Regions from separate parts of the Homo sapiens genome. Here regions 1 and 2 are each reported to be linked to region 3. The links are microRNA targets in miRTarBase. Many come from high-throughput screens and were not tested one by one. Region 3 holds a microRNA gene; each other region holds the end of a gene's coding sequence.

Region 1 (3,149 bases), not on the chromosome of region 3:
GATGATCCTGTGTTGCATCATTACACATTTTTACTTCGTGTAAAAATTTCTAAGCAAACTAATACTCAAAATTAATGCAAGTATAATGAAAGTTTATCATTCAGATTTATTGCCATATAATAAATCTTTCACAAAAATCAGGAAGAAGCCTCTGGTGACTTTGCAGAGCTGAGGCAGTGATGCACGTGGTGGGGCCTCCCTCCTGAGCGGGAACCAGGACTGGGAGCATCACTTGCAGGCCTCCATGGAGGCTGCTGCCCCAGCTGAGCTGTTAGCTAGTGAGTGCTTCTACTGTGTGATGAATGAGAAAAGGGAAAGAGGGGAGGGCAATCAGGGTTCTGGGGGCACCTCAGTGAGCCCAGAGGCCTGGAGGAGAGGCTGTATGATTCCCCAGTCAGGCCTTCCTTGGGAGTGTGCCCTCTGTCAAGATGACTGGGTTTTTGAAGGGCCTCATTTCCTCACACAACAAGCACTGACAGTCCTGCAGCCCAGGGACTGTCCTGTGGCACTGCCCAGCCCTCAGACTCAGAGGACAGTTCTGTGGTCCTGCCAGAAGCTCAGCTGTTCCACATGACCCTTAAACATTTAAACAATTTTTTGGTTTAAAGGAAAAGGAAGCCAATCAAAATGCTTTGGAAACAAATTAAAGTTGCAAATTATTTCCCCACATAGTAAATACATATCCTTGCTACCTGAAATGATAATCATCACTCCCCCTGCTGGCTGAGAGCGCTTCTCCTCCTTCAGACTGGCTCTGCCACAAAGCTAAGTATTAGTAGAAGTTGTTGCCAAGCCTCACCTCTAGCCTGTACATGGGCTCTGAGGTGAACACAGGAGTCAGAGTCCCCACTCCAGCAGTGACTGGAGGAGGCCTGACAGAACAAGCCCCTTGGGGACAGGAGGCAAGCTGCACTCACCTCTGGGACCCCACCCGGGATGGGCGCTCCACGAGTCCCTTGGCCTTAGGGAACCTCTGTTTCATTCCATCCAGACGAGGATAGGGAAGCTTCCTGCCCTACCTCGACAGCCTCTAAGAGCACAGCTTGGCCAGGCCTTCCCGTGTGGAGCCCACACAGTGGTGCACTGAGAGGCTGCCAGTGTTTTGACCTTTTACAGAGCTTGGGGTGACTGAGAATGGTTCCTCCGAGGCCCTCGGAAGATTTGATGGACTCAAATAACACGGGCCTGCAGCCCTGGGACACAGGACAGGAGAAGCCAGCCCTGACACAGATGAGCTGGCAGTGGATTCGAACAGTGTGCTCAGTCTCGTCTGGGCTTTTGTGCTTTCTATGTTGAAGACCAAATACTTTTTCTTTGAGAATGAAACTAGGCTCCTTATCTAGACTGTGAAGGGGCCCGTGAGGACACAGAGTGTGACTGGAAAGGAAGGTCCCAACTGGCCCTCAATGTGGCCCCAGTGGCTGTTTCCCTGCAAGAAGCTCCTTCCTCCAGCTCAGGCACCAACACACGGATCACACCGGCCCAGAAACAAAGAGCAAAACATGCTTTTCATCCCACGTGGAATACAGTATGAACAAATTACTCTCCTTTTTCTATTAGTGTGGGTGAAGGAAAAAGACTGTTTTCAAATGAAGCTTTTCTTTTTCCCAATGATTAATACAGAGTAGATTAACTTAATTTGTGCTAGACTCCAATTTAATTCCAGCAACAGTTCACAGGCCATATTCACAGAAAAGTTAATCTGGGCTTCATGAGAAGTAGCCATTTTCTTTTTCTTTTCTTTCTTTTTTTTTTTTTGCGAGACAGGGTCTCACTTTGTGGCTCAGGCTGGAGTGTACTGGCACGTTCTTAGCTCACTGCAGCCTTGAACTCCTGGGCTCAGGCAATCCTCCTACCTTAGCCTCCTGAGTAGCTAGGACTACAGGAATGTGCCATCATGCCTGGCTAATTTTTAAGTTTTTTGTAGAGATGGGATCTCACTATGTTGCCCAAGCTGGTTTCAGATTCCTGTGCTCAAGGGATTCTGCTAACTTGGCTCCCCAAAGTGCTGGGATTACAAATGTGAGCCACTGTATCTGGCCCATATTCTTTTTTAAGAAAAGATGCAGAGGTGTTAAATATTAATATCAAATTGTCCAGGCATGGTGTTTATGAAATTGTGTGCCCTCTGACAGGCAACCAAACACACACGACTTCATTTCTTTATTAATTCCTGCCTCATCATCTTTTCTCATTGATGCTCCTTAATGTCAAAGGAATCTCTCTCTCTCACACACACATAAGACCAAAACAAATATCTTGAACATGCAAAAAAATAGTCTACGCTTTTGAATAGTGTGCACTGTTGAATAGTGTGCACTGTTGGATAGTGTGCACTGTTGAAGTGTGATGTGCCTAAGGCAACAGGATCTTGGGAAAGCTCTAGATTTTTGGCTTCGAAATAAAACTGCATGTTGAATAGCAGGTTTTTACATTTATTATTGTTGTGTATTTCCTCCCCTTTTTGCAATACTATCTACGCTGAGTTATCTATTGCCAACTAGCACCAATTCTCCAAATCAAAGTGTGTGAGGAAAACACACTCGTGCAATCCTCTTTAACAGAAGATACACCAAGTAACCTGTCTGTCTACTTCTGTTACCCAGAAATAAAAGAACTTGAAGGGCTGCTTGGCTGGAGGGGTCCGGGTGGGAGAGCATCCTGCCCTCAGTCGGAATCCATGGTGAACAGCTGGATGTCCTGTGGATTCCAGTACAGGCCGACTGCTGAGTTGTAGACAAGAGACCAGACATAGGGGATAAAAAACTCCTCGGGCTGCTCCTCTTCCACATATTTGAATTTCAATTCTGGAAATTTCTGCAATGAAAATAAGATGATTTTATAATCCCACAGTTCCATGCACAAGCAAAAGTGGTGAGAGTTTGCAGGTGGTGCTGTGGTGTGCGGGGAGCCCACCCACCCCTGCCAACTGGTCACAGGGCATGAAAGCTCTGGGGCTTTAAAATATTTCAGCTATCAAATGGCTCCTGAGAAAATGTGAATTACCGATGGAGAGAGCAAGTAACACAATGGGTCCTGGTTGGCTAATGTCAGTTTGGCTGATAGTTCCCTGCTAGGGACCCCAACAGTGGTTAAGGTATGATGAGAAATATCCTAGCTGAGACATGGACCCTGCCTGGGAGGCAGAC
Region 2 (3,149 bases), not on the chromosome of region 3:
GGGATGGATTGGAGTGGGATTGTATCTGTTAGCCAGTGCAGCAGCATTTTACTATGTTTTTGAAATCAGTGAGACTTACAACAGGCTGGCCTTGGAACACATTCAACAGCACCCTGAGGAGCCCCTTGAAGGAACCACATGGACACACTCCTTGAAAGCTCAATTACTCTCCTTGCCTTTTTGGGTGTGGACAGTTATTTTTCTGGTACCTTACTTACAGATGTTTTTGTTCCTATACTCTTGTACAAGAGCTGATCCCAAAACAGTGGGCTACTGTATCATCCCTATATGCTTGGCAGTTATTTGCAATCGCCACCAGGCATTTGTCAAGGCTTCTAATCAGATCAGCAGACTACAACTGATTGACACGTAAAATCAGTCACCGTTTTTTCCCTACGATTACAAAACTGCCAGTCCTATATGGAGTCTGATCACAAGACTGCAGTTTCTTCACAGATCTCAGGAAGTTGTCGTGGGGCAGAGGCTTTTTAAAAACATGTGATTAGGGAGCTATCTTTATCTGAATAATAACGAATTTTTAGGTAAAACCTGAGATAGAGTACTACAAAATCATGTTGATGACTTCAGATTTTGGAAGTTAAATCATGTCTGTTATTTGCATTCTTTAGAAACTTGACTAAGTACCTGAATTCATATTTCTATTCTACTGTGCAACATAGTGATGATTCAGAAATTTTTCCTTTGGGGAAAAAAATGAATATGAACATTTCCATTGTGTTAAGTGTAAAAAGGTCCAGACATGATCATAAAATTTAAATTTTATACAATTACTTGGCTTGCTTTAAAATTCTTCACACTTAAAACACCGATTCATTCTATTGCAGCTAAGCCAGCTGTCTAGACTTGCTGTCAGCTTATGAGGCATTGCTAAAAAATTATTGAGGAAATGGCTGTCTTGATAAGCAGAATTTGTTCTTCCTCTTGGTAATGGCTAAATTATTATTAATGCTTTTAATGGTTTTATTTTTTATATTTTTCTTTTTTGTGGAGAATGGGGTCTCGCTATGTTGCCCAGGCAGGTCTCGAACTCCTGGGCTCAAGCTTTCCTCCTCTCTCTGGCTCCCTAAGTGCTAGGATTACAGGTGTGAGCTACCATGCCCAGCTATTTTTAATTAAAAAAATTTTTTTTTTCCATGACTTGTGACACAGTCTCAGAAGGCCCTGAGAACGTACGCTCCAATGCTACTGATTTAGAAAACTATCTGGGAAGAAACTAAGTGTTAAATGTTGAAAGGCTAGAAATAACTTACAAATAGAAGATGGAAACAATGTGTTCAATGAAAATCTAGCAGGTTATTTATTATTTATTTAAATTATTATTATTATTTTTGAGACGGAGCCTTGCTTTGTCACCCAGGATGGAGTGCAGTGGTGCAGTCTTGGCTCACTGGAACCTTCGGCTCACTGCAACCTCCACCTCTCGGGTTTAAGCGATTCTCTTGCCTCAGCCTCCTGAGTAGCTGGGATTACAGGTGACCACCACCATGCCTGGCTGATTTTTGTTATTTTAGTAGAGACAGGGTTGCAGCATGTTGGCCAGGCTGGTCTCAAACTCCTCACCTAACTAAGGTAATCCACTTGCGTCAGCCTCCCAAAGGCCTGGGATTACAGGCATGAGCCACCATGCCTAGCTGTATTTATTTATGTTATTTATTTTGAGATGGAGTCTTGCTCTGTAGCCCAGACTGGTGTGCAGAAGTGCGATCTCAGCTCACTGCAACCTCCACCTCCCAGGTTCATGCTATTCTCCTGCCTCAGACTCCCGAGTAGCTGGGATTACAGGCACCCACCACCATGCCTGGCTAATTTTTGTATTTTTAGTAGAGACGGGGTTTCACCATGTTGTCCAGGCTGGTCCCGAACTCCTGACCTCAAGTGATACACCTCAGCCTCCCAAAGTACTAGGATAACAGGCATGAGCCACCATGGCCAGCCTATAGCAGGTAATTTAGTCCAGTCCTTATCAGATGCATGAGACCCCTCTAAAAGATGCTATCAAGTCATAATCTTTCTGATTTTCTTTTCTGGCCCAAGGTCAGGTCATCAGGCAGTAGGTTAATTACATGAAGATGTGTTCCTGTACCTTCTCCTTTGCATTTGTACTACCTCACATCTGGTACTAATACAAATAACTAAAACATGGACACAGTAGCATTTCTTTTCTGCATGAGATCAAGATATATTTTTATACAGTTATGTCATTAATACTGGAAAACATTTTATGCTTTTAATAATCAACACTTTTTGATGCTTATTCTGTTGGGCCCTATTCTAAGAGCTTTATGGAAATTAACTAATGTAATCCTCCCAACAACCCTATAAGATGGGTATTATTATCCAGATTTCACAGATAAGGAAACTGAGGCAGAGAAGTCAAGTAACTTGCCAAAGGTCACAGCGAGTAGCAGAGCCAGGGTTATAACCAGGCATTCTAACGCCATCGTTACTAACCACAGAGGCATAGCGCTTCTCACAAATGACAAATGTTTTAGCACTGGGTACTCTTTGCCCAGTCATGCCAAAGAATGGAAATGGCAATAGTATTGACAAGTTTTTCTCTATTTGTCTACTAGAAATCTGAAAGTTTCCTAGCAACCTCATCTTTCCACTACATCTGACTGAACCCGAAAGGAAGGCTGAGTATTCCATAGCAAGCTGTTACTTAAAAGATAAAGCAGGTACCTTTGTGATGTAAAAGTAGCAGATCAGATCCTTCAGATCAATTAGTCTCATTTATCTCACTGCCTCCAAAGGTCTAGTTACTGAAATGATATATCTTTTGATATAACACGTGGAATCCTCAAAGTAAGCAGCAGTTTGAAATACTTGTTTTTGTGAGGGTCAGATGACCAAATCACTTGCATCTTTTAAGTATTCAGTATGCATGTTACAGACATTGTTTATGAGTGATTTACATTTATTCTTCACAACAGTCCTGGGAGGCAGGTATTATACTGCTACTAGTGTCATTTTACAGAAGAAACCTGAAACACGTAGGAATAACTTGTCCATAGTCACATAGCCAGTATGTGAAAGAGCCGATTTGAACCTAGGATGTTGGCTTCAGATCTCCAGCTTTTTATCATTCTATACTGCTTCTCAAAAAGGAGAGTAATTTGAGGGAAATC
Region 3 (3,149 bases):
GAGCAGCTGGAGCACACCCTGGACGCGCGGGCTGCTCGCGGACTTCAACGGGAGCATTAGGTAAGGGTGTGAGAGACGCGGGAAGAGGCAAAAGGGAGCCACAAAGGCGTACAGGGAAGGACTTCTTTCTTTCTTTTCCTTATTATTATTATTATTATTTGCAATTTAAGGGGATTGGAGAGTGACTGCCCAGCGTGCGCGAGGGATGCCAGATGAACCGCTAATTAGCAAAAGGTAGTAACTAGAAGGGCGCCCTGTCTGATGGCTGTGGGGCTCAGTTTGGCCAGGTTGGGTTGGCAAATACTATGCATTTTGAGTCAAGTTTGGAGTATTTTTTTTTTAATGGAAAAGAAATCTTCACAGGTGTAGAAACCCAATTTAAGGGGAAAAATGTTATTTTTCTCATTTCTATACTAAATCCATTCTTCCCTAATAGAAAATTGATTCCAGATTGATGTATAAGTTTTATAAATCAGTTTAGTTTGTAAAGACTTCTAAAGACTCATTTAGTGGCATAAGATATCGTGACGAAAGTTCAACATTTAAAATTCCCTCACTCGTTTAACGTATTACAGATTCTGTCCCAAACGTTTTTGTTTTTCTTTTAAACAAAAGTTACCCCATCATGGAAGAGATAGGGGACCCTGTGAGCCTTTTTCACATAGAGGCTCACTTCCTTGCTGTATGTTCTTAGGTAAAATAAGCACTTGGAAATGGGAGAAGGTTTTCTTATGGAAGATAATGACATGAAGGGAAGAAGAGCTAATCTGCCTACTTTGGTTTAATGGAGAAAATGGGTCCATAAATGTTTAAACAGAAGTAGAGCCCTTTGAAATAGATCAAAATGTGACATCTCTCAGCCATCTGTGCATTATGTGAAGACTGTAAGGCTGTGTTTCTTAAACCAGCTCTAAAATTTCTCTCATTTTCTATTAATGGGGTGGGGGCTGGGAATATTCATTTAATCTAACAGTCACTTTCCGTATGGAGCCCAAAAGCTCTGAATGATCTGAAGACTCGAATACTCATCCTGGGTTTTACATGCTCCTTTCTCTAGGTCCTCCTCTTATAAAATCAGGGTGGATAGAATGTGCCTGCAAATTACTGAGATGCAGATATCAAATTTTCTTAGATGGAGAGGGGGAGTCCAAAATCTGCTTATACATAAGAATTGGACTTTTTGCAGTTGCCAGTGTTATTCGTGTTCAATTCTGTGTAAATAATTGAGATTATTAATATTTCTCAGGATTTGGTTGAAACCACAAAACCTAGCTTAGACTCTGTAAGCCAAAGGAAAGCCTGTTTCAGGAATATTAACTAGTAGTTTACTTGTTTAGTTTCTAATATGTGTGTGTTTGTTTTGTTGTTTTAACCAGGTGAGTCTGCATGGATCTGTGAGGACGGAAAAGAAGAGCTCCTGGAAGACTTAAAATTTTGCTACAGGAATAGGCCTTGGCCATGTAAAAGTGCTTACAGTGCAGGTAGCTTTTTGAGATCTACTGCAATGTAAGCACTTCTTACATTACCATGGTGATTTAGTCAATGGCTACTGAGAACTGTAGTTTGTGCATAATTAAGTAGTTGATGCTTTTGAGCTGCTTCTTATAATGTGTCTCTTGTGTTAAGGTGCATCTAGTGCAGTTAGTGAAGCAGCTTAGAATCTACTGCCCTAAATGCCCCTTCTGGCACAGGCTGCCTAATATACAGCATTTTAAAAGTATGCCTTGAGTAGTAATTTGAATAGGACACATTTCAGTGGTTTGTTTTTTGCCTTTTTATTGTTTGTTGGGAACAGATGGTGGGGACTGTGCAGTGTACAGTTGTGTACAGAGGATAAGATTGGGTCCTAGTAGTACCAAAGTGCTCATAGTGCAGGTAGTTTTGGCATGACTCTACTGTAGTATGGGCACTTCCAGTACTCTTGGATAACAAATCTCTTGTTGATGGAGAGAATATTCAAAGACATTGCTACTTACAATTAGTTTTGCAGGTTTGCATTTCAGCGTATATATGTATATGTGGCTGTGCAAATCCATGCAAAACTGATTGTGATAATGTGTGCTTCCTACGTCTGTGTGAACACACCTTCATGCGTATCTCCAGCACTCATGCCCATTCATCCCTGGGTGGGGATTTGTTGCATTACTTGTGTTCTATATAAAGTATTGCACTTGTCCCGGCCTGTGGAAGAAAGGAGGATTTTTATCGTCTTCTTATTTTAACTTTTAAAAGCCGTAAGTTCTGATATTTAGTCATTGTAAAATGATCTGTTTTGCTGTTGTCGGGTGGATCACGATGCAATTTTGATGAGTATCATAGGAGAAAAATTGCACGGTATCCATCTGTAAACCGCAGGACCTTTGTTGGCGACATTCCTGATCAGCGCTACAGTAAGCTAGATGGTAAAAAATCCTTTCTCTAGTTGCTGCTATTAAAAAATAATTTGAAATATATTTGGATTTCTAAAAACTATGATAGCTAATTTATAAAGTATGTGTTTTGGAACTTTGGTGAATGATCAGATTGTTACTGAATGTGAATGAACCTCAAAATAAATGAAATTTATAGATCTGAAAAAATGACTCTTTTTTTTTTAAAAAAAATAATTAGCAATGCTAGAGGAGTTTGTAAAATATCTCTTGGGAGGATCCTAAAGGAAAACTTGGACATAGCTGCTTTTCAAGTTTGCATCTACATAAAGCACCAAGATGCCTAATTTTAGGAATTTTATTACCCTGACAATATTTGGATGACATGTACTAATTTTGTTTTAGTACACGTGCTCATTCTTAGGAAGGGAATGAAGAGTTGTAAACCAATGGGACACATACCTTTAAGGAACTGGGCACATTTTGAGGTCTGACAGGAGAGAAGAATGAACTTGTCAATCAAACTCTGTTTTGGGGTTCTCGGAGAAGAGGATTTGGTGGCAGGGCTACTGAGAGGGATGGCTGCTGCCTTGCTTTGGAGTCTAGCAGATGGAAACCTGGATGTGGGCCTACTGTTAATATTTAGGGTTCGGGGGCTCCATAGGGTGACTAACCTAAAGCAGAAATTTCTCATGCGCAGCTAATTAGTGGTTTGAGACTGAACACCAAAAGTTATTTGGATCCTCTAGTGGTTCTTAAAACTTTAGCACTTACTAAGAC

The links. Region 3 holds the annotated microRNA hsa-miR-106a-3p (CUGCAAUGUAAGCACUUCUUAC, at 1,500-1,521, shown strand). A microRNA usually pairs through its seed, bases 2 to 8, with sites in the 3' UTR of a target mRNA and lowers its output. Matches are read on the target gene's strand: a 7mer-m8 pairs with bases 2 to 8, a 7mer-A1 pairs with bases 2 to 7 and ends in A, and an 8mer does both.
Region 1: the mRNA of DYM is a reported target of hsa-miR-106a-3p. Seed matches in the 3' UTR shown: 7mer-A1 at 2,465-2,471.
Region 2: miRTarBase lists LYSET as a target of hsa-miR-106a-3p. The part of its 3' UTR that is shown has no 7-base or 8-base seed match.

What each region holds. Positions count from the first base shown.
Region 1 is chr18:49,041,388-49,044,536 of GRCh38, forward strand. It overlaps DYM (dymeclin), which reads right to left. Exons shown (of 18, transcript NM_001353214.3): 18 at 1-2,817. The coding sequence ends at 2,668. All of the region lies in intron 4 of DYM-AS1 (DYM antisense RNA 1), which reads left to right. Among named protein-coding and RNA genes, the nearest start is that of MIR4744, 6.8 kb to the right of the region's middle. RefSeq lists an enhancer at 3,004-3,149.
Region 2 is chr14:93,186,299-93,189,447 of GRCh38, forward strand. It overlaps LYSET (lysosomal enzyme trafficking factor), which reads left to right. Exons shown (of 2, transcript NM_001098621.4): 2 at 1-2,165. The coding sequence ends at 373. Among named protein-coding and RNA genes, the nearest start is that of LYSET, 2.6 kb to the left of the region's middle.
Region 3 is chrX:134,168,580-134,171,728 of GRCh38, reverse strand. It overlaps MIR106A (microRNA 106a), which reads left to right and starts at 1,451; the gene lies at 1,451-1,531. MIR106AHG (miR-106a-363 cluster host gene) reads left to right here. Exons shown (of 2, transcript XR_007068340.1): 1 at 1-60; 2 at 1,377-2,579. It overlaps MIR363 (microRNA 363), which reads left to right and starts at 2,277; the gene lies at 2,277-2,351. It overlaps MIR92A2 (microRNA 92a-2), which reads left to right and starts at 2,117; the gene lies at 2,117-2,191. It also overlaps MIR19B2, MIR20B and MIR18B.